Homo sapiens: one gene and its partners. The protein of the gene in region 2 purifies or fractionates together with the protein of the main gene of each other region. This does not show direct contact. Each region holds a gene or a part of one and is shown on either strand. Other genes may lie near its edges.

Evidence for each region.
Region 1: the proteins of RAB8B (region 2) and GDI2 purify together in Homo sapiens (affinity purification with mass spectrometry; 3 studies listed by BioGRID and IntAct, with this or other methods). This does not show direct contact.
Region 3: the proteins of RAB8B (region 2) and NOCT purify together in Homo sapiens (affinity purification with mass spectrometry; 2 studies listed by BioGRID and IntAct, with this or other methods). This does not show direct contact.
Region 4: the proteins of RAB8B (region 2) and CHM purify together in Homo sapiens (affinity purification with mass spectrometry; 2 studies listed by BioGRID and IntAct, with this or other methods). This does not show direct contact.

Annotation. Positions count from the first base shown.
Region 1 is NC_000010.11:5,781,730-5,789,759, reverse strand, and holds part of GDI2 (rab GDP dissociation inhibitor beta), read left to right. Parts: intron 1-3,709; coding exon 3,710-3,908; intron 3,909-4,486; coding exon 4,487-4,618; intron 4,619-8,030. UniProt on the Homo sapiens protein: GDP-dissociation inhibitor preventing the GDP to GTP exchange of most Rab proteins. By keeping these small GTPases in their inactive GDP-bound form regulates intracellular membrane trafficking.
Region 2 is NC_000015.10:63,255,115-63,263,144, reverse strand, and holds part of RAB8B (ras-related protein Rab-8B), read right to left. Parts: exon of another isoform or gene 7,639-8,030; coding exon 7,561-7,638; intron 6,641-7,560; coding exon 6,551-6,640; intron 3,519-6,550; coding exon 3,453-3,518; intron 454-3,452; coding exon 403-453; intron 1-402. UniProt on the Homo sapiens protein: The small GTPases Rab are key regulators of intracellular membrane trafficking, from the formation of transport vesicles to their fusion with membranes.
Region 3 is NC_000004.12:139,039,560-139,047,248, forward strand, and holds the end of NOCT (nocturnin), read left to right. Parts: intron 1-3,514; coding exon 3,515-3,784; intron 3,785-5,079; coding exon 5,080-5,915; 3' UTR 5,916-6,380; downstream 6,381-7,689. UniProt on the Homo sapiens protein: Phosphatase which catalyzes the conversion of NADP(+) to NAD(+) and of NADPH to NADH. Shows a small preference for NADPH over NADP(+). Represses translation and promotes degradation of target mRNA molecules.
Region 4 is NC_000023.11:85,952,993-85,961,022, reverse strand, and holds part of CHM (rab proteins geranylgeranyltransferase component A 1), read left to right. Parts: intron 1-2,045; coding exon 2,046-2,162; intron 2,163-3,047; coding exon 3,048-3,168; intron 3,169-4,644; coding exon 4,645-4,870; intron 4,871-8,030. UniProt on the Homo sapiens protein: Substrate-binding subunit of the Rab geranylgeranyltransferase (GGTase) complex.

The DNA of each region.
Region 1 (8,030 bases), on a different chromosome or scaffold from region 2:
GCCTAAGTTTTGTGATTAAATTTTAACTTTGAAATAGAATTGCATATATTTATGATAGTAAATAATATCTACATATATTTTAGCATTCATGACATACATAACTTTTTTCTAATTTTTTTGGTATTTCTAGGCTATGCGGTTCATCTGCAAGTTTTTTCAAATTGTCACAAATCTGCTGGGCATGTTGCTGTGCACCTGTAATCCTAGCCACTTGGTAGGCCAAGGCAGGAGGATTGCTTGAACCCAGGCATTTGAGGCTGTACTGTGCTATGTTCACACCTGGGAATAGTCACTGCACCTCTAGCCTGGACGATATATCCTTATATAGCAAGACCCTATCTCTTAAAAAAAAAATCATTTGGCCGGCTACTGTGGCTCATGGCTGTAATCCTAGCACTTTGGGAGGTTGAGGTGGGTGGATCACTTGAGCCCGAGAGTTCGAGATCAGCCTGGGCAACATAGTAAGACCCCTGTATCTACAAGAAATAGAAGAAAAATTAGCTGAATACCCTGTAGTCCCAGCTACTCAGGAGGCTGATGCAGGAAGATTGCTTGAGCCCAGGAAGTTGGTGGCTGCAGTGAGCTGTGGTTGCGCCACTGCACTCTAGTCTGGGTGACAGAGATCTCATCTCAAAAAGGAAAAAAAAAAAATCAAGTAAAATAAAACGTAGAACTGAAAGAAAAAACAAACCTGGCTGGGCATAGTGGCTCATGCCTGTCATCCCAGCACTTTGGGAGGCTGAGGCAGGCGGATCACTTGAGGTCAGGAGTTTGACACCAGCCTGTCCAACATGGTGAAACCCCATCTCTACTAAAAATACAAAAAAAAATTAGCCAGGTCTGATGGTGCATGCCTTTAATCCTAGCTACTCGGGATGCTTAGGTGGGAGTATTGCTTGAACCTCAGGGGCAGAGGTTGCAGTGAGCCGAAATCGCGCCACTGCGCACTCTAGCCTGGGCGACAGAGTGAGACTCCTTTTAAAAAAAAAAAAACATGCAAACCTCCAAAAATTTTTTCAGTACATTTATTGACAAGAAAAAATCTACATCAAGCTTGTCCTGTCTGTGGCCTATGGGCTGCATGTGGTCCAGGGTAGCTTTGAATGCAGCCCAACAGAAATTTGTTAACTTTCTTAAAACATGAGATTTTTTTTCACAATTTTTTTAAAGCTCATTAGCTATCGTTAGTGTATTTTATGTGTGGCCCAAGGCAATTCTTTTTCTTCCAACGTGGCCCAGGGAAGCCAAAAAATTGGACACCTCTGATCTACATAAAAAGTGGCAGTTCAGATGTGTTATTCAAGGGACAACTGTAAATACAGAAAGGCATATCCCATGGTGATCCATTGCTGTGGGGGAAAGAGGAAGGAGGGAGTGTGAGAAGGACGCTTTAAATAAAGTGATCTGGGAAGGCATCAGCATAGATAAATAGTAGTTGTAAAAAATTATCTACCTAGTAGGGACTAGGTGCAGTGGCTCACACCTGTGATTCCACACTTTAGGAGCCTGGGAGTTTGAGACCAGCCTGGGCAACATGGCGAGACCTTGTTTCTATGGAAAAAAAAAAAACACAGTAGGAAACACGTTATTGATTTGAACTTTTTCAATTAGGAGTTTTTCAGAATGAGCACTGGGTGTTTGAAGTATTTGTAATACAATTATATCTGGTTCTCATGCTGTTAACAGCTAGTCATTGAGATCACTATTTGGCGCCATGCATAGCAACATGGAATTAAGGGATGGAAAAACAGCCAGGACGTCTCTACTGTGCTGTGTAAAACAGGAGTGGCACTGATTTCTATCCCTCTCTGGGTAAGGATCAGGTAATGGAGGAAAATAAAGGAGAGGAAAGAGAAGGAAACATGATAGATTTTTATTTTGATTAAAACAAAAGTTGGTAACAGCAACTCAGGTTTCTATTAAATAAACAAAAGTTGGGAGATACTCCAAAATAACTGTTAGTAATAGCTTTAAGTTCTGACAGGCTGTGCCGACCGGAATATGATACCTAAGTTTTAAGTGCATTGAAATAGTGATTCATGTTTCCTTTTGCCTGTCTTATACCCAGCTCTTACAACTACACTTGTGTCTTAAGTATAGTGCTGATGTGGTAATAGGATATTTCTATTCAGCCTTATGCCTTTACTGTGTGTACATTCTGTCCATTTAAAAGGCTGAATTGTAAATCTTAATTTTAAAAAATTAAATGTAGTCAGTTGTCATTAATAGCCTCATGTTTCTTTTTTTTTTTTGAGACGGAGTCTCACTCTTGTTGCCCAGGCTGGAGTACAATGGTGCAATCTCGGCTCAGTGCAATCTCTGACTCCTGGGTTTATCAAGCGATTCTCCTGCTCCAGCCTTCCAAGTAGTTGGGATTACAGGCGTGCGCCACCACACCCAGCTAATTTTGTATTTTTAGTAGAGATGGGGTTTCACCATGTTGGTCAGGCTGGTCTTGAACTCCTGACCTCAAGCGATCCACCCTCCTCAGCCTTCCAAAGTGCTGGGATTATAGGCGTGAGCCACTACGACCTGACCAGCCTCATGGTTTTAATTTTCAGTTTTGTTGGCTGGAAAATGATCTTGGATGTAATATTAAATCTATCAAAACATTAAGCTGTCAATAGAAACATTTGAGAGTTTGTTTTTAAAACTGTAGTTGTATTTTAAAAATAGCTGTACAGCTTAGGAATGGGGGGAGAAGGGAGATAAAATCAGAAAATTTTCTTTTTTGTTGGCTATTTGTCTATCATCTATGATTAGTTGAAATACAGCCTAGTAATAAAAGCTGAGGATTTATAAAGTGGTAATTTGTAGCTTCTTCATCTGTTTTTTAGTGTAAAATGCAGCGAATTGGTTGCTTATGTAGGACTTCAGTAAAATAAGTGACTAGCAGCAGTAGCAGCAGCATCGAAATTTTATCGAGGTCAATTTGTTCTTGTTATCTTAAGCTGTTATCATTAAGTGCCCGGTTGTATCTTAGCATACAGAGGCGGAAAAGCAAGAGCATTCAGAATTTAGGCAATTGGCTGAGTGTAGATCAGAGTTGTCAAAGGGAGACTCTTCAGATGGGTGGCTTCATGGATACTTGTTCAGAGTCACATTTACCTTGTACCTAGTAAGAAACATAATTTGACATTTTTCATTCAGTTAAGTAGTAGTTTTAATTACTTGTAATTGTATGGTAGAATTGAAGACTTTATAAGTAACCTGTTATAATCGTGTCAGTTTAAGGTGTTGTGAAACTGGAAGCCATGCTGTCCAAACTCCCATATCTTAAATTGCATCCTGCATTTTAGGCGCGGTGGCTCATGCCTGTAATCTCAGCACTTTGGGAGGCCGTGGTGGGCGGATCACCTGAGGTCAGGAGTTTGAGACCAGCCTAACATGGTGAAACCTTGTTTCTACCAAAAGTACAAAAATTAGCTGGGCGTAATGGCGGTTGCCTATAATCCCAGCTACTCGGGAGGCTGAGACAGGAGAATCGCTTGAACACGGGAGGCAGAGGTTGCAGTGAGCTGAGATTGCGTCATTGCACTCCAGTCTAGGCGACAGAGCAAGACTCTGTCTCAAAAAAAAAAAAAAAAAAAAAAATTGCATCCTGCATTCCGCAGTTGATAACAAGGCATGTTTAAACTTTGCTCTCATACTTCGTTCTCCTCAATGTCTGATTGTGAGTGTGCTTTTTGAAAAATTCTTTTTTATTTAGGCCTAATGGGATTGTTTGAAAAACGTCGCTTCAGGAAATTCCTAGTGTATGTTGCCAACTTCGATGAAAAAGATCCAAGAACTTTTGAAGGCATTGATCCTAAGAAGACCACAATGCGAGATGTGTATAAGAAATTTGATTTGGGTCAAGACGTTATAGATTTTACTGGTCATGCTCTTGCACTTTACAGAACTGATGAGTAAGTATTTTGGTTTTTAGATTTGTATTTTTCTTGAAATTCTCACTAAATTTCCCAAGTCTTCCAAGTGGAAATTCTAACAAAACAAATACTTAGCCATATTGCACTATGAATGAAGAGGTTCTAGTTGAAATTAGTGTTGGGACCTTTTAAGTGATTTAAATATAAAGGTAGTGGGCCAGGTGTGGTGGCTCACGCCTGTGATCCCAGCACTTTGGGAGGCCAAGTTGGGTGGATCATTTGAGGTCAGGAGTTCAAGACCAGCCTGGCCAACATGGTGAAACCCCCTCTCTACTAAAAATGCAAAAATTAGTTGGGCGGTAGTGGTGCGTCCCTGTAATTCCAGCCACTTGGGAGGCTGAGGCAGAAGAATCACTTGAGCCTGGGAGGTGGAAGTTGTGGGGAGCCGAGATTGCACCACTGCACTCCAGTCTGGGCGACAGAGTGAGACCCTGTCTCAAAAAACAAAAAAACAAAAAAGAAGATAGCGGATTGAAATCGCTTCAAAAAAAATTATAAATTGAACACCATGAATGAAAACTAAAGCCCTTTCCTAATACTCATTTCCTTTCTTCCAGTTACTTAGATCAACCGTGTTATGAAACCATTAATAGAATTAAACTTTACAGTGAATCTTTGGCAAGATATGGCAAAAGCCCATACCTTTATCCACTCTATGGCCTTGGAGAACTGCCCCAAGGATTTGCAAGGTAAGAGCCTGTGTTTAAAACCTCAGTGATCCAAAACCTCATCTTCAACATAATGTGTATATGAGATATAGTTTAAATAATGAGATGAGATCAGTCTATGAGTAATAAGATGCTTTTTATTTTTATTGAAATAAAATTAACATATAATGATATGCATGGATCTTCAGTTAAAAAAAATCCAGTTTTATACAACTGTAGCTGATGTGCTCTTGTAAGTGCCAACTCCTGGCTGGAGGCCAGCCAATACAAAACCAGCGCACTTAACAAAAATACAACCAAGGACCTTCACAGAATCTACTTCACACCCCTGTTACCTCCACCAGAGTAAGTGCTGGTATCCACGCCTGAGAGACCTGGAGACAGATCACATCACAGGACTCTTTGCAGACACTCTCCAGTACCAGCTTAGAGCCTGATTATCTCCACTGGGCGGCTAGATCAAGAAGAGAAATAACAATCACTGCAGTTTGGCTCTCAGGAAGCCCCATCCCTAGGGGAAAGGGGAGAGCACCACATCAAGGGAGCATCCCTGTGGGACAAAAGAATCTGAACAGCAGCCCTTGAGTTCCAGATCTTCCCTCTGACATAGTCTATCCAGATGAGAAGGAACTGGAAAAACAACTGGGGTAATATGACAAAACAGGGTTCTTTGACACTCTGAAAAGGTCACACTAGCTTACCAGCAATGGATCTAAACCAAGACAAAAATCTCTGAATTGCCAGAAAAAGAATTCACAAGGTCATTATTACGCCAATCAAGGAGGCACGAGAGAAAGGTGAAGTCCAACTTAGCAAAACAAAAAAAGTGATACAGGATATGAATGGAAAAATTTCCAGGAAAATAGCATAAATAAATAATCACAACTTCTGAAAATCAAGGGACACACTTAGAGACATGCAAAATGCACTGGAAAGTCTCAGCAATAGAATTGAATAAGTAGAAGAAAGAAATTTCAGAGTTCGAAGACAAGGCTTTTGAATTAGCCCAATCTGACAAAGACAAAAAAGAATTTAAAAAAATGAACGCAGCCTCCAATAAGTTTGTTAAACAACCAAGCCTAAGAATAATTGGTGTTCCCAAGGAAGAAGAAGAATCTAAAAGTTTGGAAAACAAATTTGAGGGATTAATTGAGGAAAACTTCCCCGGCCTTGCTAGAGATCTAGACATCCAAATACAAGAAGCTTAAAGAACACCTGGGAAATTCATCACAAAAAGATCATCACCTAGGCACATAGTCATCAGGTTAACTAAAGTCAAGATGAAGGAAAGAATCTTAAGAGCTGTGAGTCAAAAGCCTCAGGTAACCTATAAAGGAAAACCTATCAGATTAACAGATTTCTCAGCAGAAACTCTAAAAGCTAGAAGGGATTGGGATCCTATCTTGAGCCTCCTTAAGTTATCAGCCAGTAATTTTGTATCCAGTGAAACAGAGCTTCATAAATGAAGGAAAGTAGTCTTTTTCACACAAACAAGTGCTGAGAGAATTTGCCACTACCAAGCCAGCACTACAAGAACTGCTAAAAGGAGCTCCAAATCTTGAAACAAATTCTCAAAATACCAAAATTGTATCTCCTTAAAGCATAAATCACACAGGACCTATAAAACAATAACACAATGAAGAAAAAAAACAAGGTGTTCAGGCAAACAAATAGCACGATGAATAGAATAGTACCTCAAATCTCAATACTAATGTTGAATGTAAATGGCCTACATGCTCCACTTTAAAGATACAGAATAGCAGAATGGATAAGAACTCATCAACCAAGTATCTGCTGTCTTCAAGAGATTCACCAGACACAAAAGGACTCAAATTTAAGGTAAAGGGGTGGAAAAATATATTTCATGTAAATGGACACCAGAAGCGAGCAGAAGTAGCTATTCTTATATTTTTTATTTTATAACTATATATATTTTAAAAAAAATCAGTTTGATAAATTTATAGACCTATCCCTGTCCTGGGTTTAACTAAAACCTGAGTGAAGGTATAGAACATTTTCCTCACCCCATAAAGTTCCCTTGTGTCACCTCATAATGAATACTGCCCCCCATCCCCAGCAACCACCTCTGTGATTTCTGTCACTATAGATTACTTTTGCTTGTTTTCAAAGTTCATGTAAAAGGAATAATACAATATGTTCTCATTTGTGTCTTTTTCATTTTTTGAGATTCATCCATATTGATGCATGTGTCAGTAATTCTTTTTTTTGGAGATGGAGTTCCACTCTTGTTGCCCAGGCTGGAGTGCTGTGGTGCAGTCTCAGCTCACTGCAACCTCCACCCCCTGGGTTCCAGTGATTCTCCTGCCTCAGCCTCCCAAGGAGCTGGGATTACAGGCATGCACCACCACATCCGGCTAATTTTTTATATTTAGTAGTGATGGGGTTTCACCATGTTGGTCAGTCTGGTCTTGAACTCCTGACCTCAAGTGATCCACCCACCTTGGCCTCCCAATGTGCTGGGATTACAGGTGTGAGCCATTGTGCCTGGCCAATTCTTTTTTTTTAATTGTTGAGTAGAATTCCTTTGTATGAATTATATGAGCATATAATTCTCCTTTTGGTGGACATCTAGTTAGTTTTCAGTTTTTGGCTATTATGAATGAAGGCACTGTGAAATTTTTATGTAAAACACTTTCTGTGGGGATATAGGTTTTCATTTCCTTTTGGGTAAATACTGGGAGTGAAATTGCTGACTAATGTGGCAGATAGAAGTCTGAATTCATAAGAAACTGTAAAACAGTGTTCTGGAGTGGTTGTGTCATTGTGTATACACTCAGCAGTGTATGAGAGTTCTCGTTGCTCCACATCCTTGTCAACATTTAGTATTGTAAGTTTTTAATTTTAATTGCCCAAGTGGGTGTGAAATGCTATCTCATTATGGTTTTAATTTGTATTTCTTGACTCATGTTGCTCACCTTTTCATGAGCTTATTGACCATTTGTATAATTTTGTGCTGTGATTGTTCAAGTCTTTTGCACATTTCTAAAGATTGGATTGTCTTTCTGTTTTTGACTTGTAGGAGATCTTGGTGTATGATGGTGGCAAGTCTTTTGTCATATATGTATTAAGAATATTTTCTCCCAGTTTATGGCTGGTCTTTTGATAAGCATAAGTGTTAACTTTTTTTTTGAGATAGAGTCTTGCTCTGTTGCCCAGGCTAGACTGCACTGGCATGATCTTGGCTCACTACAACCTCTGCCTCCCAGGTTCAAGCAATTCTCATGCCTCAGCCTCCCGAGTAGCTGGGACTACAGGCATGTGCCACCACGCCTGGCTAATTTTTGTATTTTGGGTAGACGGGGTTTTGCCGTTATTGAACAGGCTGGTCTCTAACTCCTGACCTCAAGTGATCCACCTGCCTTGGCTTCCCAAAGTGCTGGGATTACAGGCAGGAGCCACAGTGCCTGGCCTA
Region 2 (8,030 bases):
CAGGACTCAGGATAAAACAAACTTTCAAGGTTGTCTTAATGATTTCAAATTTAAGCAAACTTTAGCAACTTCAAAATCGTAGTTATGCAGATATAAATACCTGTCACATGAAAACTGAATAATTTTATGGCAAAAATCGAATTTGTGCCATTATTATTTTCATTATTCTCATCAAAATTCAATTAAAGATCACTTAAAGAGCCAGAAGAAAGGACTGAAACAGTGGCAGCTCAGAAATAAGAATCCTAAACAAACAGAACTAAGAATCAGAGTTCAACCAAATGAGTATCTGAGTCAGGAAAAAAATGAGTTTAATTTGAGTATCTTATAATTAGACCTATCCTTTTCATCAAATGCCAAACAGACAGCATAATGGAAATAAAAATTATAAGTGATACAAACCATTTTTCTGTTGAGTTTTGTCATTATATCTCGTGCAAGTGTAAAAAATGCCTATAGGTAAAACAAAACATTTTCATTATTATATATTCACTATATATATGTATATATATATATATACACATATATATATTCCCCCCGCCTCAGAGATGGGGTCTTGCTATGTTGCCCTGGCTGAATTGGAACTCCTGGGCTCAGGCAATCCTCCCACCTCAGTCTCCTAAGTAGCTGGGACTACAGGTGTGAGCCACCATGCCTGACTTATTTTAAAACAGAAATACAGAATTTTTCATTATTTCAATATAAATATACCACTTTAAAGCTTTACATTAAGAAAGTAATAATTGTAATCATAGTATGCATGTGTTTACTCTTTTGAGATTGTATCATAAACATTTTCCAATGTTATCAAACTATCATTCATTCATCAAATATTTTCTTCATGTGATATAATATCACAATAACACCCTTGTTGAGTCACGAGTAACTTCTTCAGTACACCAAGAACAGGACAGAAGCTCTGTCTAAGCTACCCCACTTCCCTAGAGCAGGGCACAGTGCTGATCTAGGAAATGCTGACTATCTGGTTTAATGAGTGAATAAATAATTATGTATTACCCTATAGCTCTAAAATGTCTTCACAAAAATCTCTACTTTTTATTTCTGGCTTTTTCTTTCAAATTGCTCTCACTCTTATAGCTGAATATGTATAATCTTCCATGTCTTACTCCAAAATCCCAACAGTTCCTGGAGCTCTCGGCTAAATTCCCCACCATGGAAGTCAGTTCGAATAGAAGCAGGGCAAATCTGATTAATCTTCGTGATAATTTATCCATAATGTCTCTTGATACAAACCAAATATTTTTTAAATCCATCATCACTTTTTCTATGAAGCCAGGAACTGTTAAAGATTCTTCATTTGTCACCATGCTAAACCTATTGTTAAATCAACCTCTTTGTTCCCAACACTCCTGATCCCCAAAAACTGTTCAGGAAAAGGATTATTTCCAATCCAATCAAATAAAAACAATACGACAACTACTATTATTACTCATTGTCAGTGTCTCACTGTCAAACTTGTCACCTATGAGCCTAACCACACTGATTTAAAGCTCTGGCAAAGTTGTTACCATCTGTATGCCTTGCTAGAATAAGCAGCTCAGGCAACTCCCAGTTCAGGGAGTTCTATCCATACTGTTGCAAATTATGGGATTTCACTCTTTTTTTATGGCTGAATAGTATTCCATTGTGTATACATACCACATTTTCTTTATCCATTCATCCACTGATGGACACTTAGGTGGATACACTGATTCCCTTTCTTTTGGGTAAATACTCAGTAGTGAGACTGCTGGATCATATGGTAGTTCTATTTTTAGTTTTTTTATTGTTCTCCATAGTGGCTGTACTAATTTACATTCCTACCCACAGTATATGAGGGTTCCCCTTTCTCTACATCCTTTCCAGCATTTGTTATTGCCTATCTCTTTGATAAAAGCCATTTTAATTGGGGTGAGATGATAGCTCACTGTACTTTTGATATGCATTGCCCTGATCACTACTGATGTCGGGAATTTTTTCATATACCTGTTGGCCATTTATTTGTCTTCTTTTGAGAAATGTCTATTCAGATCTTTTGTCCATTTTTAACTTGGATTATTTCTGATGGCGGGAAATCCTTTTGTATCAAGCAGAGGGAAGCATTTTTCTGCTTATCTAAGCTTGTGTAAGTAAATCAGTAGAGGCTTCCTGTTTCCTAACACCCATCGGCCAACCTAAACAAATAACTGTTACGTTATTTAAAACAAAGAAAAAGTTCTGATCAGTGTCCACTGGCTAATAAAGTCATGTAGGTCTCGATTTTTAACCATCATGTTATGATGAACAATGAGTAACCTAGGAAATTAAATGTTTATGAAACTATCAGTATTATTAAAAGAATTACATGTATTAACACATATCACATGTAAATTACACGTATTATTTTTATGATCAGTTGAAAAAATGTTTTTTAAAAAAAATAACAGTTCCCTTGGTGAAGAAAACCTATTATTTTTTTTTTTTACACTTTAAGTTCTGGGATACATGTATAGAACATGCAGGTTTGTTACCTAGGTATACACGTGCCATGGTGGTTTTCTGCAACCATCAACCAGTCATCTACGTTAGGTATTGAAGAAAACCTATTCTCATAAGACTTTAGATGGTTTGGTTTTCCTTAACAGCTAACTTAATGAAAATTTATTAAAGCTACTCCCTGATAAACACTTTCCTATTTCCACTAAATGCCACTGTTACAATTTATTGTGCTTAATCTACCTCAAATGTGTACGCTAAAGGAATGTGTCCAATAAACTAACAGCTTAATTCTCCCTTGAGAGAGTACAGCCTTAAAAGTGATTTAACTCTTCTGCTGCAGGCATACAGGGTGACATGAATGAGCACAGGATACTGGTTGGTCTTCTAGTCCAGGATTTCCAGCTGCCCAAAAAAAGGGCAAAACTGAACTTCCATAATCTATTCTGTGAATCTTAACTGAGCAAGCTAATATAATCCAGGTGGAGGCTAGATGCTAGAAATTCAACAACCAGCGTCTACATAAAAATCAGAAGCAGCTGGGTATGGTGGCTCACGCCTGTAATTCCAGCACTTTGGGAGGCCAAGGAGAGGGGATCACGAGGTCAAGAGATCGAGACCCTCCTGGCCAACATGGTGAAACCCCGTTTCTACTAAAAATACAAAAATTAGCTGGGCGTGGTGATGCACACCTATAGTACCAGCTACTCGGGAGGCTGAGGCAGGAGAATCGCTTGAACCTGGGAGGCAGAGGTTGCAGTGAGCCGAGATCATGCCACTGCATTCCAGCCTGGCGACAGAGTGAGACTCCATCTCAAAAAAAAAAAAATCAGAAGCACAAAAGTGTACAAAGTAGAGTTGGGTCAACAAAAGGCATTCATTAGGTCAGAAAATACCAAAGCTCTGAGAGCTGTTTGAACACAGGCCCCTAAGCACTGGTGCTGCTCCGTAACAGTCACCAAACGTTTCCTTCTTACCTCTTCTACATTTGCACTGGATTTTGCGCTTGTCTCCAAGAATTTAATCCCATAGTCAATTGCTAGCTGAAAAGTAAACAGAAATATTTAAATTTAGCAAAAGATACTTGAACACATAATGCATTTGTATTTCTTAGGTTTTTCAAAGTCTCAAAGGTAGGGTATCTATTTCAGAACTCCTGTGGTTCTCAAATTTCTTTGCTTTCTTCTACTGTATTCAGAATTTAATAATTTAACTTAATCATCGTAAGAAGGATGGCACAACTTCCATTTCAAACATAATTTAAGGCCGGGCATGGTGGCTCACGCACTTTGGGAGGCCGAGGCAGACGGATCACGAGGTCAGGAGATCGAGACCCTCCTTGCTAACATGATGAAACCCCGCCTCTACTAAAAATACAAAAAATTAGCCGGGCGTGGTGGCACCCGCCTGTAGTCCCAGCTACCCGGGAGGCTGAGGCAGGAGAATTGCTTGAACCCAGGAGGCAGAGGTTGGAGTAAGCCGAGATCGCACCACTGCACTCCAGTCCAGGTGACAGAGCGAGACTCTGTCTCAAAATAAATAAATAAATAAAATAATAATAATAATTTAAGTACTTCTCTTTTTTTCTGTTTTTGTACTTTTAGTTCTCTAATATGGGATAAATACCCACCCTCCTAAGGTAGCAGAATAGGGTCTGGAGGCAGGGAACCTAAGGCCAATTCACATTGACTTCCTAGAACTAAATCAAAAGAAAAACCCCAGCCTTCCATGCCCAAGTAACAAAAGTACAGGGGTTACTCCCTTTGCAACCTCCTCCCCTTTTCTGACTCACAGATTAAAAATGGAAAGTACCTCTGATTGGTCCCCTCCCACAACCAATCAGACGTCTGCGCAGGGTATAACTTTGTAACTTCATTTCATCCTTTGATTGGTCACCTTCTGCAACCAATCAAACTGGTCATGGGCCACTACTTCATTTACAGAGTGTAAACCAAGTAACCCATGGGAAATTTCTAGAGGGTATTTAAACCCCAGAAAATTCTGTAACCAGTGCTCAAGCTGCTTGCTCAAGCCCACTCCCACTCTGTGGAGTGTACTTTCATTTCGATAAATTTGTGGTTTTGGCTTCATTCTTTCATTGTTTGTGTGTGTGCATTTTGTCCAATTCTTTGCTCAAAATGCCAAGAATCTGGCTGACTTGTAGTCAAGACCCTCCACTGGTAAAACTACCATTATCTTGGGATTCATTCACTCCTTTTATCTGCTCCCAAAGTTTAATTCTCCAACAGTTACTGTATTGACTTTTAGGCCGGGTGTGGTGGCTCACGCCTGTAATCCCAGCACTTTGGGAGGTCGAGGCAGGCAGATCACCTGAGGTCAGGAGTTAAGAGACCAGCCTGGCCAGCATGGTGAAACCCCGTCTGTACTAAAAATACAAAAATTAGCCTGGTGTGGTGGCAGACGTCTATAATCCCAGCTACTTGGGAGGCTGAGACAGGAGAATCGCTTGAACCAGGGAGCCAGAGGTTGTAGTGAGCCAAAATTGTGCAATTGCACTCCAGCCTGGGTGACAAGAGTGAAACTCCATCTCAAATAAAAAAAAAAAAAACTATACTTACTTTTAATTACTTTTTTTTTTTTTTTGAGACACAGTCTTGCTCTGTTGCCCAGGCTGGAGGAGTACAGTGGCACTATCTCAGCTCACTGCAACCTCCGCCTCCTGGGTTCAAGTGATTCTCCTGCCTCAGCCTCCTGAGTAGCTGGGACTACAGACGCACGCACGCCACCATGCCCGGCTAATTTTTGTATTTTTAGTAGAGACAGTGTTTCACCATGTTGGTCAGGCTGGTCTCGAACTCCTGACCTCGTGATCCACCCACCTCGGCCTCCCAAAGTGCTGGGATGACAGGTATGAGCCACTGCGCCAGGCCTTAATTAATTTTAATAAATGAGTCCAGAATTGAACAAAAACTTAAATACTAAAGTATTCATGCTTTGATTTCTATTGATTGAGACAAATTGCGAACTCTTATATATTCCTCAAAAAGTTCCTAGTTCATTTACAATGCTAAAATTAAGTAAATGTTTTTAGGGGAAAAAAGTTTGCAGCAAAAGTTCACAGTCAGATTGAAAAACAAAATGTGGCTGGGCATGGTGCCTCACACCTGTAATCCCAGCACTTTGGGAGGCCGAGGCAGGTGGATTGCTTGAGGCCGGGAGTTCAAGAGCAGCCTGGCCAGCACGGCAAAACCGCGTCTCTACTAAAAATACAAAAATTAGCCGGGTATATGTGTGTGGTGGCACATGCCTATAATCCCACCTTCTTGGAGGCTGAGGCATGAGAATTGCTTGAAGCCAGGAGGCAGAGGTTGCAGTGAACTGAGATTACGCCACTGCACTCCAGCCTGGGAGACAGAGCAAGACTTTGTCTCAAAAAAAAAAAAAAAGAAAAGAAAATGCATTTTGCATATATAATTTTTTTAAAGGCTAAAGCAAAATTCCAAGACTTAAAAAGTGAAGCTTCTAAGTCAATTTAGAATCTGTCACAGAAGTAAATATGTACACAAAATATTCCTTTGCTTTACAGGACACAAAAGAGAGAAATGCCCATGCCCATAAACAACATATAAATGACATCCATAGCTTGATCAGTTACAAGGAATTTATCCATAAAACCTAACGCTAATGTGTAGTAAAATATTCTTAGGGAAAAAAATGAATTGGAAAATGATTCCTGTTGAAACTTCACCTATCCCTATAACTTCTTTTTCAAAAAGAATGTTTACTTTAACTTCAAAACTGGGCATTTTCACACAGATCTGGAAGAAACAGCCTGAACTCTAAGCTGCAGGAATCTGAGAAAGGACCAATTTGTATCTCCCAGAAAACATTAGCAAATTCTTTAGGAATGAGTCATGACCACACAGTATAGAGAGCTGGATCTCGAATACTAATTCACACCATTCAAGTATGGATTACATCTCTTTGTTGTTGATATCCAATTTAAAGGGATTAAAACACAGATTTTAAAAAAAATCAATAATTAAATAATATGAAGAAAAGAAATGCTTAATGTGAGTAGATTCCAACCTTTATCCATTCCATTCACATTTACCTTCTCCCCTCTTTCTTTTGACACTTGTCTTTTGTCATTCATATCACATTTGTTACCCAGGATCATTCTTTCGACATCGGAAGAGGCATGCTGCAGGGAGAAAATAGCATGCTATAAAAACAGCCTGAGAAAAACCCGTTACTTAATAGACAAATCCAACCTGTCAGAAACACATGAATTTAATAAGACATAATCTTTTACTCACACAAGGCCTAATTCAGAGAAAAGTTTAAAGATGGGAAGAGGGGCAAAGCTACAGTACAAGAGCCCTCACAGAGCCTGTGCAAACCTTCTTCCCGAGGTTTGGAAAGAAGGTGGAACAAACACAAATAAAGCTTATGGTGATCTAATGACAAAATTTCCAAATATTCAGGTCAAAGAAGGACAAAAACTTGGTACTGAGTGAACCAGTGGAGATGGTATTCTAGATTCTGTACTATTTTAAAAAGAAATTCATCTAAGTTTATAGAAACGTGTACAAAATTATTTCAGAGTCAGATTTCTTTCTTAAGTGACAAAGACATTAAAAAAATCTTAATACCAATTATCCTGGAATTAAAACAATCTTCAAATATCTAAGATGGAGAAAATGTCAGAAGGGCAAAAAGTTGCCAAGGTAAAGAGATAATTGTTGCTAGCCAAACAGCATGGTGGGATAGAAGCTGGGAACCAGATGTTTTAATCCTGGCTCTTCTTTTTAAAGGCTGTATGAGCACAGGCAAATCACTTCTTTCTGTTCTCAGTTATTCATGTGTAAAATGTGATCTAGGATTAAATTATTTCCCATATCTGGCCCAAGCTTAAAATCTTGTGACGTTACTTCTCTGTCCCCCTAACCCCCAGTAGTCAGACTGGCAGCACCAGAGATTTATGGAGCTCTTCAGAGAGAGAGGGCCCAACCTGCCCATGCCCTGCTTCTAAGCAGCTCAGCTGCCTTGCAGACAGAGGAGCCTTTTACAAGCACCCAGCAGGACTCTTCTCCAATGTCACCATTCTCTTTCCACACATACCTCTTCAATGTTTCTGATCCAATTTTTAATATTGTCAAAGGATTTTTCATTTGTGATGTCATAGACCAGCATAATGCCCTATAAGGGGGAAAAATATCTTTATTTAGTACTTTATATATTTAAAGTTATAGTATATAATGTCAATGTACTCCTACCCTCCAGAAACCTTTTGTTTGTCCATTTTTTCCCTTTAAAAAGGGTTCATAATAAATTTGAAAAGTACAGAGAAACAAAAATCAATAAATACTTATTCCACTGGTCTCACCATGTAAATAAAAACCCTTTTAACATTTTCACTGTTAACCTTTAATGAATTAGTGATCGTGGTAAAGGTGATACACCCTTTCTACCTGACCTCACATGATAACAATCAGCCCCAATTGGAGCTGAGTGTTAAGTCAAAACAGCGATAACATTGAGAGTAAGAGTTAATCACTTCCACTGTGCACTTGTTTATTCCAAGTAGAAAC
Region 3 (7,689 bases), on a different chromosome or scaffold from region 2:
TAGTATTTGTCACTTTCTCCCTTTTATTTTTTTTTAAAAAAAGCAATCCTTAGGTTTGACTCTGATCTTTTTCTCATTTCTTTTTAATTTTTATTGCTAATTCTTTTTGGTGTCTAATTTCTGAATTTTCTAATTCTGATTTAGGTTATTCTTTCATGTCTTGTATCTTTTTGTTTTGTTTTGTTTTGAGATGGAGTATCGCTCTATTGCCAGGCTGGAGTGGAATGGCGCCATCTCGGCTTCCTGCAACCTCCTCCTCCCGAGTTCAAGCGATTCTCCTGCCTCACCCTCGCGAGTAGCTGGGATTACAGGCGCCCAACACCATGCCTGGCTAATTTTTGCCTTTTTAGTAGAGACGGGGCTTTGCTACGTAGGCCAGGCTGATGTTGAACTCCTGACCTCAGGTGATCCGCCCGCCTCAGCCTCCCAAAGTGCTGGGATTACAGGCATGAGCCACCGCGTCCGGCCTCTTGTATCATTTTCTTTTTTTTTTTTTTTTGAGACGGAGTCTCGGTCTGTCGCCCAGGCTGGAGTGCAGTGGCGCGATCTCGGCTCACTGCAAGCTCCGCCTCCCGGGAGCCTCCTGCCTCAGCCTCCGAAGCAGCTGGGACTACAGGCGCCCGCCACCATGCCCAGCTAATTTTTTTTTTTTTGTATTTTTTAGTAGAGACGGGGTTTCACTGTGTTAGCCAAGATGGTCTCGATCTTCTGACCTCATGATGCGCCCGCCTCGGCCTCCCAAAGTGCTGGGATTACAGGCTTGAGACACCGCGCCCAGCCTTGTATCATTTTCTTAAAGACTTAGCTCACTCTGCAATAGGATGCAGTTTGATTTGCTTCCTGGGCACATTTCTGGCATGCTTTCACTGTCTGATATTGTTCTATTCTTTATTCTCTTCATGTGAAATTGATTTTTCTAAATTTTTAGAAGGAAGTGTGGTTCAGGATTGCTTTTCTGATTTCACGTACTCCTCAAACGTTTGACTCCCATTGGACATCCTTCCTTCTGCACATTCATTTTTGCATGGTAGTTTTTTCATATAACCACCCTAAAACTCAGCTTGGCAAAGATAAAATGTCATCAAAAGGAATGTAGGGCAGTCCTATTGAAACTGAGCTCTACATCAAGCCCAGAGCCTGACAGGTGTCAAACGTCACTGTTTATTTCACATTTAAAATATAAAATATACCATGGTGTCCCTGTGAGTTTGCTGTGGTTCCCTGGGACACGTTAGCTCACAATTTGGGGATCACAATCCCAGGTGATGCTGATATTGCTGATCAGGAGACCACACTTGGATGTTTGGCTGTTTTTTGTTTGTTTTCCCCAAAAAACCTACAGGAAGTAAAAAAAAAAAGTACAAGAAGAAAGACTTTCAAAACTTGTACTGCCAGCCATGAAGAAAATTTCTTCCTTTGGACCCATGTACTCATGTATTTATCAATTAAAATGAAATTATTGAAATCAGTTTGGAAACAGTTGTATATGTGTGTATTTGTGGGAGAGCATGCTTGCTTGCAGATGCACACACACCTGCTATGTTTGTTGGGAAAATTAGTATGTGTTCATTTGCTGTAGTCTAGCTTTCTTACTGGAGGGAAAAACTACTTTGAGTAGACAGGAAGGAACAAAAAAAGCATGCTTGCATCCTCATTGACCTTAATGTTCAAGGACATTTGGTGGTAAATAATTGAATTTCCTTTGTAACCTGCCACAGTGAATTTGATTGACTGCTAGTTTGAGATGTGATTGATAAGCCTGCCAAATTTTATAAAGAAAACTTTATATAATGTTTACATTTATAAAATGTTTATGTTTTATAAAGAAAACTTTGTATCTCTCAAGAGAGGGAAATCCAGATTGCCTGGTACCAGCATTTATCATACAGAGAATCTTGGATGTTACTCCCAGTAAAATGTGCCCCTAATTTATACTATAATGAAAATAAAACATAGTTGACCTCTAAAAGAGCAATCAACTGCTTTCAAGTGAACTGCCACATAATGCTAATTAGTTGAAGATTATGCTCTGTTCTCCTTAATGAATTATAAAAAGCAAAACACTAAAAATTAACTCGGGAAGACAAAGTAACTGGTGCTTCCTGCATTTTTCCTTGTTCTTTGTCTTTCTAGGATCCCAGGAAATGTGGGCAACTCATGAGAAGGTAGTGCCCTGGATGGAAGTTAGCTGAACAAAATCAGCTTACTCTAAGCCCTTCTGGCCTCAGCCCCTTTTCTGGATTTTAAGAAATCCAGCAATTGATACAAGATTATAGAGTATACCACTCAGTGAAGTTCAGAGTTCTACTACAGAAAGCCCAAGCCTTGATTTACACTTAACATCTAGGAGAAATGGGAAAGAATCTAGCCATTACTTTCCCCAACAGAGGGATCTGTATAGATGAGATGACCAGCGTAGCAAGCAGCCTGCTATTACCTAATCTCTCACCCAGGATTAACATTAACATGGGCTTTCTAACATTTCACTTTTTACAAACTAGTCTTTAAGATCTTTTTTTTTTTTTTTTTTTTGAGTCTCGCTGTGTCACCCAGGCTGGAGCTCAATAGAGTCACCTCAGCTCACTGCAACCACCATCTCCCTGGTTCAAGCAATTCGCCTGCCTCAGCCTCCTGAGTAGCTGGGATTACAGGCGCACACCACCACACCCGGCTAATTTTTTATGTTTTTGGTAGAGGCAGGGTTTCTCCATGTTGGCCAGGCTGGTCTCGAACTCCTGACCTCAAGTGATCCACCTGCCTCAGCCTCCCAAAGTACTGGGATTACAGGTGTGAGCCACCATGCCCAGCCTAGTCTTGAGGTTCTTAAGATATATAGAAAAAGGAATGTAGATTTTGTTAAGCCTTGCTCTTTTTTTAAGACTGGTTTTATAAATTACAAAGACAAATCCTAGGTTAGAAGAGGCCATCAAGATCAAAGTATTTCTTCCTTAAAAGGATGAGTTTTCATTGTTAATCAGAGGCTAGTTTTAACGGTAGTACTTAAATTAACTGTCCTAGTAGAAAGCTGGAACCTGGAAACTCCTTTATTCTGCCTCTGTAGAAATGGCTTTATACGCCGGGCGTGGTGGCTCATGCTTGTAATCCCAGCACTTTGGGAGGCCGAGGCGGGCAGATCACCTGAGGTCGGGAGTTCCAGACTAGCCTGACCAACATGGGGAAACCCCATCTCTACTGAAAATACAAAATTAGCAGCGGGTAGAGGTGCATGCCTGTAATCCCAGCTACTTGGGAGGCTGAGGCAGGAGAATTGCTTGAACCTGGGGGTGGAGGTTGCGGTGAGCCGAGATTGTGCCATTGCACTCCAGCCTGGGCAACAAGAGCGAAACTCCATCTCAAAAAAAAAAAAAAAGAAAAAAGAAATGGCTTTATACACTATTATGGCAACAATTGAGCTCCTGGTTTCGGTGGACAGTAAATGTTTATCTTACAGTTGTGCTGGGCGAGAAGTCAGGAAAAGGAGCTGAGTGTGTAACTGTGATTTCCTTTTCCGTAGTGTGTTCCATGGGAACCGGTACAAGCAGACTCTATAGTGCTCTCGCCAAGACACTGAACAGCAGCGCTGCCTCCCAGCACCCAGAGTATTTGGTGTCACCTGACCCAGAGCATCTGGAGCCCATTGATCCTAAAGAGCTTCTTGAGGAATGCAGGGCCGTCCTGCACACCCGACCTCCCCGGTTCCAGAGGGATTTTGTGGATCTGAGGACAGATTGCCCTAGTACCCACCCACCTATCAGGGTTATGCAATGGAACATCCTCGCCCAAGGTATGCTGGATGCTTTTGTGCCTCTGCAGTCAAGTTTGCTGTGACTGCCTTTCTGCTTCTGCACATCCACAGTGCACTGTTTTATGTGGAAGGAAGAGGTGTGGGCAGATGGAGGTGACTGCAGCAGCATGGAGAGCTCCTAGAAGAGGTTAAGACAGGGAATCATCTGGTTTTCACTTTTTTTTTTTTTTTAGAAAGAAAAAAGACACTTTAATTGTTCTTGGATAGTCTACAAACATGGAAGGTGTAAAGAATAAACCACGAGTTACTTGCTTTAATTGTAAAAACCAAGTCAGGTGCAGTGGCTCACACCTGTAATCCCAGCACTTTGGGAGGCCGAGGTGGGTGGATCACCTGTGGTCAGGAGTTCGAGACCAGCCTGACCAACATGGAGAAACCCCGTTTCTACTAAAAATACAAAATTAGCCGGGTGTGGTGGCGCATGCCTGTAATCCCAGCTACTCGGGAGGCTGAGGCAGGAGAATCGCTTGAACCCAGAAAGTGGTGGTTGCAGTGAGCTGAGATTGCGCCATTGCACTGCAGCCTGGGCAACAAGATCGAGGTTGCAGTGAGCTGAGATTGAGCCACTGCACTCCAGCCTGGGCAACAGAGTGAGACACTGTCTCAAAAAAATATGTATATATATATATATATATATATACACTTTGTTACAGTAGTAAGGACTTCTTTCCTGGGTCTGCCAAATTAAAAAACAGATGTGTCAATCAACTCTATGTAGCATTGCCTTTTATGTAAGCAGTTGAGATTTTAAGAAAAACAAGGGCCTGATTTTTTTTTTTCCTGGAAAATAAGGGGAGATTCCGTGACTTACCAATCTTTGATTCTTTTTCCCTAAGTAGGAAAAGCTGCCTATTTAAAATAAGTTCCATTCATTCTGAGTAGTGTCCATAATAGTCAGGGTTAAAACTAATACTTGGTGTTAAATATTTGGTGTTTAAAAAAACCAAAAAAATTTTAAAAGAAAATTGGCATTTATTTCATTTTATATAGCTTAGATCCCTGGCACTGCAAAGCAGTTTCCTTAAGTAAGATCTTAATATCCTGGAATATAGTTAACATGAAATCATTTCGAAACAAAAGATCTGTTGTTTGCTTCATCCACATAGTGAGAGGTGATTTAGTTTGGATGGGGTAATACAGTTTGGACAGAGAGCCACTCCAAGCATTTAAAGCAGAGGAAGCATTCTGAGGGTCTTGAGTGATGCCAAACCTCCTGGGTACTTTGAAGTCACGGTTTTGTAAGAGCTGACAACTGACTAGCTTTTTCTTTTCAGCTCTTGGAGAAGGCAAAGACAACTTTGTACAGTGCCCTGTTGAAGCACTCAAATGGGAAGAAAGGAAATGTCTCATCCTGGAAGAAATCCTGGCCTACCAGCCTGATATATTGTGCCTCCAAGAGGTGGACCACTATTTTGACACCTTCCAGCCACTCCTCAGTAGACTAGGCTATCAAGGCACGTTTTTCCCCAAACCCTGGTCACCTTGTCTAGATGTAGAACACAACAATGGACCAGATGGTTGTGCCTTATTTTTTCTTCAAAACCGATTCAAGCTAGTCAACAGTGCCAATATTAGGCTGACAGCCATGACATTGAAAACCAACCAGGTGGCCATTGCACAGACCCTGGAGTGCAAGGAGTCAGGCCGACAGTTCTGCATCGCTGTTACCCATCTAAAAGCACGCACTGGCTGGGAGCGGTTTCGATCAGCTCAAGGCTGTGACCTCCTTCAGAACCTGCAAAACATCACCCAAGGAGCCAAGATTCCCCTTATTGTGTGTGGGGACTTCAATGCAGAGCCAACAGAAGAGGTCTACAAACACTTTGCTTCCTCCAGCCTCAACCTGAACAGCGCCTACAAGCTGCTGAGTGCTGATGGGCAGTCAGAACCCCCATACACTACCTGGAAGATCCGGACCTCAGGGGAGTGCAGGCACACCCTGGATTACATCTGGTATTCTAAACATGCTCTAAATGTAAGGTCAGCTCTCGATCTGCTCACTGAAGAACAGATTGGACCCAACAGGTTACCTTCCTTCAATTATCCTTCAGACCACCTGTCTCTAGTGTGTGACTTCAGCTTTACTGAGGAATCTGATGGACTTTCATAAATACTTGCTTTTGTCTTTTTAATCACAGGAGTCTATTTTTTTTTTTTTTTTTTTTTTTTTGAGACAGAGTCTCGCTCTGTTGCCTAGGCTGGAGTACAGTGGCCTGATCTCGGCTCACTGCAAGATCCGCCTCCCGGGTTCATGGCATTCTCCTGCCTCAGCCTCCAGAGCAACTGGGACAACAGGCGCCCGTCACCACGCCCAGCTAATTTTTTGTATTTTTAGTAGAGACGGGGTTTCACCGTGTTAGCCAGGATGGTCTCGATCTCCTGACCTTGAATCACAAGAGTCTTAACAGGGAATGTTTCAGGAAACAAATAGGATAAGACAATGCCAGAGGAAGGATAGAAACATGGGAAGTTTCTATCATTTCATTTTCTGCGTTTCCAGCATGCCCTTGGAAAAGACTCCCTTTAGTCCCTTTTTCAATTAAAACCTATGGTGAAAAAGGCGTTTGCACTCCAATTTTGGCTTGTGTTGTTTTCTTTTCCTTAATATTACATTTTGATCATTTAAGGGCATTAAATTGGCTTGTTTTGGTCAGGTGTGGTGGCTGCTCATGCCTGTAATACCAACACATTGGGACGCCAAGGTGGGAGAATCACTTGAACCCAGGAGTTCGAGTCCAGCCTGGGCAACATGGCACGAGACCCCATCTCTATTTCTAAAATAATAATAAATTCGGTTATTTTGAAGCTTTTTCAATTTGAGGATGCTATAAAAACTTAGACTTGTTGCTTGAATCTTCCATAATAGTATGTAGGAGCAATTTCTCTAAACAGCATTTTAAGTTATTTATTTGTGGGTTTTTAAAATGTCAACAAAATGCATGGCAGTATTTATTTTTTATATCTTCATATAAAATTAAGTAAATTATAGCATTATGAACATTTTAGAACCATGCAAGAGAAGTTATAGAGAAAGTAATTTATGGTGATTTTCATAAAGCTTTAAAATATTTTCATTTGGGCTATAACAAAATGAGTACAAAGGAACTATTTAGCCTGGAGGGGCTTTTGTTATTTAAATGTCAGATTTCTTTGATACATTCTTCAAAAATAATCCTTGTCCTGCCTCTATGTTCCATTATTGTGTTTCTTTTTTTTTTTTTTGGAGACAGAGTCTCACTCTGTTGCCCAGGCTGGAGTGCAGTGGTGTAGTCTCGGCTCACTGCAAGCTCTGCCTCCCAGGTTCACACCATTCTCCTGCCTCAGCCTCCCAAGTAGCTGGGACTACAGGCGCCTGCCACCACGCCCGGCTAATTTTTTGTATTTTTAGTAGAGACGGGGTTTCACCATGTTAGTCAGGATGGTCTCAGTCTCGATCTCCTGACCTGGTGATCTGCCCGCCTTGGCCTCCCAAAGTGCTGGGATTACAGGCGTGAGCCACAGCGCCCGGCCTTATTGTGTTTCTTGAAGAGATTCCAATTAGTTTTCAATTATTTAACCAATTAGTTTTCATTATTGCTGTTATATTTAAACTTTACCATTGGAATAATATTGGTATGCGTTTGATATTAGTCACTCGATGTCATCATTATTTGTATTGGAATGTGCTATTCACAATAGGTTATTTAGAAGCTGTATGTGGCAGTGGCCAAGAGAGTCAGTAGGACCTTCTTTTCAGAGATAGGAAACTTTCTAGAAAGCCTGTTAATGGGCTTTCATTGAAATTTCCTAAGATAGCCAGATACTGTCATTCAAAATATCTAGAAAGAAGAATGTAAAAAGTTAGATAACCTGGGTCGGGTGTGGTGGCTCATGCTTGTAATCCC
Region 4 (8,030 bases), on a different chromosome or scaffold from region 2:
GACAATACACATTCATGTATATAGCCTTTTAAAAAGTAATAGCTCAAGGTAGGTTAGTTAAATAAAATACGTATAGTGTCATACTGCTCAGACTAATAGAGAAGGTCAAAGATGAAATTCTTAAAATGAAAGCTCATTTCTAAGTAAGTCCATACTCTTAATAATTATGGAACCAACATGCTAAGGAAAAATTGTTAATTAATAAATCTAATTTCCATTATTGTAATCAAATTGCACTGCTCTTTAGCCCCTCATCACTGTGGTAGATCGCTTAGAGGGTAGTGAAAAAGAGGCTTAGGCTGAGCGTGGTGGCTCAGTCCTGTAATCCCAGCACTTTGGGAGGCTGAAGCGGGCGGATCACCTAAGGTCAGGAGTTCGAGACCAGCCTGACCAACATGGTGAAACCCTGTGTGCTACTAAAAATACAAAAAATTAGCTGGGCGTGGCATTGCATTCCTGTAATGCCAGCTACTCGGGAGGCTGAGGCAGGAGAATCGCTTGAACCTAGGAGACAGAGGTTGCAGTGAGCTGAGATTGAGCCACTGCACTCCAGCCTGAGCAGCAGAGAGACTCTGTCTCAATAAAAAAAAAAGAAAAAGAGGCTTAGATTCTGATATGTACACATTTATTATTTGTGAGCTTCAGAAACAAAAATCTAGTATAATTTTAATTGAAATTTGTTTTTGTTCTTGTGATATCTTAAATGCATTATTTTTCAAGCTGGCATTAAACCTTAAGGTTTATTGGATCTTATTAAATAAAAATGCAGTTTCATATTTTATATCTTAATGTTTGTGACATTATTATGGCTATGCAGGGATCCTTGAGTCTCAAATGTGTATCTTTTTAAACAAGTGATTTTTGAAGTAACTATTTTTTATCATTATTATAGAGTTAAGAATTGGCAATATATTCTTTAAAACATGGTCTCTTTCAGTAATGTAGTGTGTTAGGAAGAGGGTAATGAAGTAACGTGCCATATTTAATCAGGATGATCAGATTAGCTTCAAAAAAGTGATGTCAATTTTGTTTTGCAGAATGCTGAACTATTAGTTTATAAAATTTTACTTGAATGGTATTGATTTACTGATAGTCTTTACTGACTTATTAGTTGCTCAGACTAATGGTTTAGATTGATTTTTGAGATTCCTTTTTCTTTGTATAGTAAAGCTAATTTTCCCATTTATTTATTATAGATGTAACATTCATTTTTAATATTTATTGAGTTATAGGCATTAAGAGTATCTTAATATAGGAAATAGTCAAATCTGTTGCATTTAACCATACGGTTAACATGCTAGATAATACTGTTTACATTATTGATTTTATCTCTCTGATATTACTTATGAGATGTTGAAAGATTAAATCAATTTCTCCCATACATGCCAGCAATAATCATCATCTTCACTTTTTGAGAAAGACATATCTCATATAAACCCAGACTTCTAGAATTACAGAAGTACCTTATAATTTGACTTTTTCAGTGTAAATGCATCACAAATATTTTTTTCTTTTTTTGATGGGGTAGGGAGGTTCACTGGACTGATTTCTTCTTATAACTACCTGGCTTTGTGTAAGACTATAGATTCTTATCCAAAACCCTCAGGGCCTGGTGTATTCTATCATTAAGATTAAAAAAATATATTTTAGAAAGTAATGAAGTACATATACTGATATGTTATATGTTAGGTTAAATTATTAGCAGGGTCTGAGGAGGAACTCTAACTAAACACATTATTTCTGCAGTGAAATATATGAATATTTATGTTAATTTGGACAAACAAAGCCAGAGTGCCTTATCAGTATGGATCAGGTTTTGCTGCTAAACATGTTTTGTAAAAACTTATGGATTGCAAAGTTTTTTGAATTTTGAATTTCAGCTAATCAATTCTGAGCCTGTAATAGATTGTGTTATGTATTATAATATTTATAGGTATGATTGTTTCTACAAATAATAAAAAATATAGCAAAATTATGTATCTTTATTGTTTTCCAATTTTTCTACTATTTCAACTTTTATCTTGTAAAATATTTTCTTTGTACAGCTGCTGTATTCTCGAGGATTACTAATTGATCTTCTAATCAAATCTAATGTTAGTCGATATGCAGAGTTTAAAAATATTACCAGGATTCTTGCATTTCGAGAAGGACGAGTGGAACAGGTACTGTGCTGATCAAGAATTGTAACTGGGCATCAGCTTAAGTTATTATGGTTTGTTTTGGAAAGATAAGCAAATAAGATTGTTATTTTCCTCATAAAGCAGTAAATTCCAGTCCTCCGTGGTGATTTACAAATGTAAATGCTTAATTAAAATTTCTAGTGCTAATTTTCTCATGGCTTACTCTGCAGCTTGGTGTTGGTACCAAGCAGCACACAAAAAACCAAAAAGCACACCAGAGTTACTATACCCAAGACTAGTCACACAAATCCTTTTCTCCCATTAATCAAGATTTTGGAGAGGGAAAAGAAAGAAACGGTGATTTTTGCTGTCCACTTGATCAGATTCCACACAGAGGAGGAGGCCCGGAGCCTGGTTGGGAAAAAATTCTTACCCTTATGACAGCTGATCAGATCCTGGGTTCTTCACTGCAGCTTCCAGAAGAGCAGAGCTTTGCTATCCTGCTCACAGCACCAAAACTGTAGGGGCCAAGGGAAACACTCCCTCTTAAGCCTCTGAAGTTTCACTGAAAAATCAACTCACAAAGGCAGATTAATTGGAGAAAAGGCATAAAAATGTACTAACATGTACATAGGGAGAACCACAGTGTTTGTTTTAGATAGCACTGCTAAATTTTTCTCTGTTAGGATGACATGCCGTTGGCCTTTTAATGGCATGGGGAGTAACTTGGCAGAATTAAGTAAGAAAGCTCACAATTAGCTCTGAAGTTAGCAGAGATGCCATTAGTACTGATGGACGGTGATGTGAAAAAGCCTGGCTAGAGTGGAAACGATAATCCTGTTATATGTAAAGGGGAAAAAAGTGTAATTTGGAATAGTTATATCATTAGGAAGCAGTTTCTTAACTTAAAATCATAATATTTTTCAGGTTCCGTGTTCCAGAGCAGATGTCTTTAATAGCAAACAACTTACTATGGTAGAAAAGCGAATGCTAATGAAATTTCTTACATTTTGTATGGAATATGAGAAATATCCTGATGAATATAAAGGTATTTTTTTCATTAAGTAGTGCTCTCCAATTATTTGACATTTCTTACTATTTTAATATGCTTGCTCTGATTTAGTGAGCCACTTATTACTGTTTTAAAATGCATTCTAACTCTGCACTATCAATAGGTTAGCCATTAGTAACATTTAGCTATTTAAATTTAAATTAATTAAAGTGAAATAAAATAAAATAAATTCAGTTTCTCAGTCTTATTAGCTGTATTTCAAGGGCTCCCATAGCCCCATGTGGCTACAGTGCAGATATTTTCATTGCTGAAGTGGCATGCTAGATTTTAATTTTTATTCTTATTATTTAAATACTACTGTCAACTGGCTCTTCATAGATGATAATCTGTTTTCATGATTCCATTATTTTTTCTCATAAGTAAAAATACTATATATTTTATCATTTTCCAGGATTGCTTTTGCATAGAATCTTGAACTATTTCGTTTGAAAAAAAAAGGCTAGATGGTATATGGGGAAAAATACTGGATTCAGAAAAGGCATGGTTTCTATTCTTGGCTTTGACCTATTTCATTATGTGATCTGGGGCCAGTTACTTCATTGTCTGTTAAAAATTGAATATGCCATTTTAGTGTCAGAGCTATATACTTTAAGTCCATTGGTCTGAAAATGTTATCCAAAATTGGAATATACTATTGATAATTTATTTATAAAGTTACAATGAGAAGTGCAGCGATATTTTTTTTCCTCTGTGAAATAATGAAAGTCTAATCCTTGCTCTTAAAGCTTCAAGTCTACTAGGTACTGTCATGTTGTTATCCACAGTGGCTGTGTAAAATTCAATTCTCTCAGTAAATTTTCATAATTTTTATTTATGTAAATTATTTCTGTAAAGTTTTTGTCTTTTATCATGGGATTTATTTCCCACCACTAACAGTCCAATTACATTATATTCTGTTCTTGGTTTAAAGGAGTAACTTCTGGGGGTCCCGTATGTTTTGATGTGATTATGTGGCCATAAGACTGATTCCAGTAGCCACATGGAAATTCATTTCATTATTTTTTAGTTTATTTTCTGAGTATCAGTGAGAAGTATACGTTTTACAAAACTCACATATTTATCATTTTAAATCAATACATTCCCATGTTGTCATAGTTGTTTAATATTTTCAGTACCATTATTGGCATTATCCTGCAGGTTTCATGATAATAAAGTGAGATTATTGCCAACTATGACAACCCATTGAGTTATTTAATATTTTCTAGTTTTTTTTAAATCCATGAAATGCTCAATCATAATTCATCATTTAAAGCTAAAAATTGTGCCATTACTCCAAATAAGAGAGAGAGATTGTTTCCATTTTTTCCTAAGATCAACCATCAGTGTCCAAAATGTAATACCACCTATGTCCTTTGTGAGGTCTGTGAAACACACTTCATCTCCTTTTTGTGGGGTGGTTTTAAATAGAAGTTTAGTTCTGATTTTAAGTGATAAAATTTCATCTTTTCATAGGATATGAAGAGATCACATTTTATGAATATTTAAAGACTCAAAAATTAACCCCCAACCTCCAATATATTGTCATGCATTCAATTGCAATGACATCAGAGACAGCCAGCAGCACCATAGATGGTCTCAAAGCTACCAAAAACTTTCTTCACTGTCTTGGGCGGTATGGCAACACTCCATTTTTGTTTCCTTTATATGGCCAAGGAGAACTCCCCCAGTGTTTCTGCAGGTAAGTTTGCCATTGATTTTCTTGTCCCTTCTAAAAGTGATACTTGAATAACAGATGAAAATTAGGCAGGCAAAAATGAGATTTATTCAAGATTTAGTATATGCAAATATATACTTTATTCTATTTATTTTTTATAATCTATTTACCTACCTATCTACCCACCTAAGTGATATATTCAGTGTGGCCTCTTTTTGAGCTTGATAAAAATACTATAAATTCCTTTTTCCACTCAATAGCATGATGGAAAGTATTGTCATTGCATATAATTTTAGTTAATTTTTTATTACTATATAGTATGTTATTGTGAATACACCACAATCTATTTTTTCATTTTTCTGTTGATGAACACAGGATGTTTCCAGTTTTTTGAGGTTAACACCCTTGTGTATGTTTCAAGTTGTGTATGTTCAAGAATTTCTCTCGGAAACATATCTAGGGGTGGAATTCCCCAGTCCTGAGATACATGAATGTTAACACTTTACAACATCGTGTTCAGTTATTTCTCTAGAGGGCTGTACCAATTATAACCTTTTAGCCGTACATAAGAATACCCAAAGCTTTACATGTTTGCCAACATTTAAAATTTTTTTGTCAACCTAACTCACATAAATTATCATTGCATTGGATTTTTATTTTTCATTTCCCTAATTACCTATGAAGTTGAACCTTTTCTCATATGTTTACTGGCCATTCATGTTTTATCTTCAGGGAATACTTGTTTGTGTCTTTTTTTGTTTGTTTTACACATTTTTAAAAATTTTTATTTTTTGTGGGTACATAGGAGGCATATGTGTTTGTGGGGTACATGAGATAGTTTAATACAGGCATGCAAAGTGTAATCCATCATGGTAAATGGAGTATCCATCCCTTCACACATTTATCCTTTGTGTTGAAAACAATCCAATTATACTCTTCATTTTAACATGTACAATTAAATCATTATTGACTGTAGTCACTCTGTTGTAATATCAAACACTAGATTTTATTCATTCTTTCTAACTACGTTTTGTACCTATTAACCATTCCTACTTATCCGCTGCCCCCTCAAAACCCGCCCCAGGCTCTGATAACCATCCTTTTACTCTCTGTCTCCATATGTTTAATTGTTTTAATTTTTAGCTCCCGCAAGTAAGTGAGGATATGCATTGTTTGTCTTTCTGTGGCTGGCTTATTTCACTTAATATAATGACCTCCAGTTTCATCCATGTTGTCATGTTGTTGCAAATGTCAGGGTCTCATTCTTTTGTTTTTTTTTTTTTGGGAGATGGAGTCTTGCTCTGTCACCCAGGGTGGAGTGCAGTGGTGTGATCTCGGCTCACTGCAACCTCTGCCACCCAGGTTCAAGTGATTCTCCTGCCTCAGTCTCCTGAGTAGCTGGGATTACAGGCACGTGCCACCACACCTGGCTAATTTTTGTATTTTTAGTAGTGATGGAGTTTCAGCATCTTGGCCAGGCTAGTCTTGAACTCCCGACTTTGTGATCCACCCATCTCAGCCTCCCAAAGTGCTGGTATTACAGGCGTGAGCCACCATGCCCAGCCAGGATCTCGTTCTTTTTATGGCTGAGTATTACTCCAAGGTGTAACTGTACTACATTTTCTTTATCCATTTATCTGTTGCTGGGCACTTAGGTTGCTTCCAAATCTTGGTTATTGTGAACAGTGCTGCGACAAATGTGGTATGTAGATATCCCTTTGATACACTGATTTCCTTTCTTTTGGGTATATACCTAGCAGTGGGATTGCTAGATCGTATGGTAGCTCTATTTTTACTTTTCTGAGGAACTTCCAAACTGTTCTCCACAGTGGTTGTACTAATTAACACTCCCACCCACAGTGTTCAAGGGTTCCCTTTTCTCCGTATCTTTGCCAGCATTTGCTAGTGTCTTTCTTTTGAATAAAAGTTATTTTAACTGGGGTAATAAAATATCTCATTGTAATTTTGATGTGCATTTCTCTGATGATCAGTGATGTTGAACACCTTTTTATATGTCTCCTTGTCATTTGTATGTCTTCTTTTGAAAAATGTCTATTCAGATCTTTTGCCCAATTTTTAGTCATATCATTAGATTTTTTTCCTGTAGAGTTGTTTGAGCTACTTATATATTCTGGTCATTAATTCCTTGTTAGACGGGTAGTTTGCAGATATTCTCTTTCATTCTGTGGGTTGTCTTTTCACTTTGTTTATGGTTTCTTTTGCTGTGCAGAAACTTTTTAACTTCATGTGTTCCCGTTTGTCCATTTTTGCTTTAGTCGCCTGTGCTTGTGGGGCATTGCTTAAGAAATCTTTGCCCAGACCAGTGTCTTGGAGGTTTTCTCCGATGTTTTCTTGTAGTAGTTTCAAAGTTTGAGGCATTAGATTTAATTCTTTAATCCATTTTGATTTGCTTTTTATATACTGCAAAAGATAGGGGTCTAGTTTCATTTTTCTGCATACAGATATCCAGTTACCCCAACACCCTTTATGGAAAAGACTGTCTTTTACCCAGTGTATATTCTTGGCACCTTTGTCAAAAATGAGTTCACTGTAGGTGTGTGGATTTGTTTCTGGGTTCTCTATTCTGTTTTTTTGGTTTATGTGTCTGTTTTTATGCCAGTACCATGCTGTTTTGGTGACTATAGTTCTGTAGTATAATTTGAAATAAGGTAATGTGATTCCTCCAGTTTTATTATTTTTGCTCAGGATAGCTTTGGCTATTCTGGGTCTTTTGTGTCTCTATATACATTTTAGGATTTTTTTTATTTCTCTGAAGAATGCCATAGATATTTTGATATAGATTGCATTAAATCTGTAGATTGCTTAGCATAGTATGGACATTTTAACAATATTGATTCTTCCAGTTCATGAACATGGAATAGTTTTCCATTTCTTTGTGTCCTCTTCAATATCTTTCATCAGTGTTTTATAGATTTCATTGTAGGAATCGTACACTTCTTTGATTAAGCTAATTCCTAGGTATTTAATTGCATTTGTGGGTATTCTAATTGAGATTACTTTTTAAAATTTCTCTTTTGGATTCTTCAGTGTTGACATATAGAAATGCTATTAATTTTGTATGTTGATTTTATACCCTGCAACTTTACTAAATTTGTCAGTCTAATAGGTTTTTGATGGGGTCTTTAGGATTCTCCAAATATAAAATTATATCATCTGCAAACAA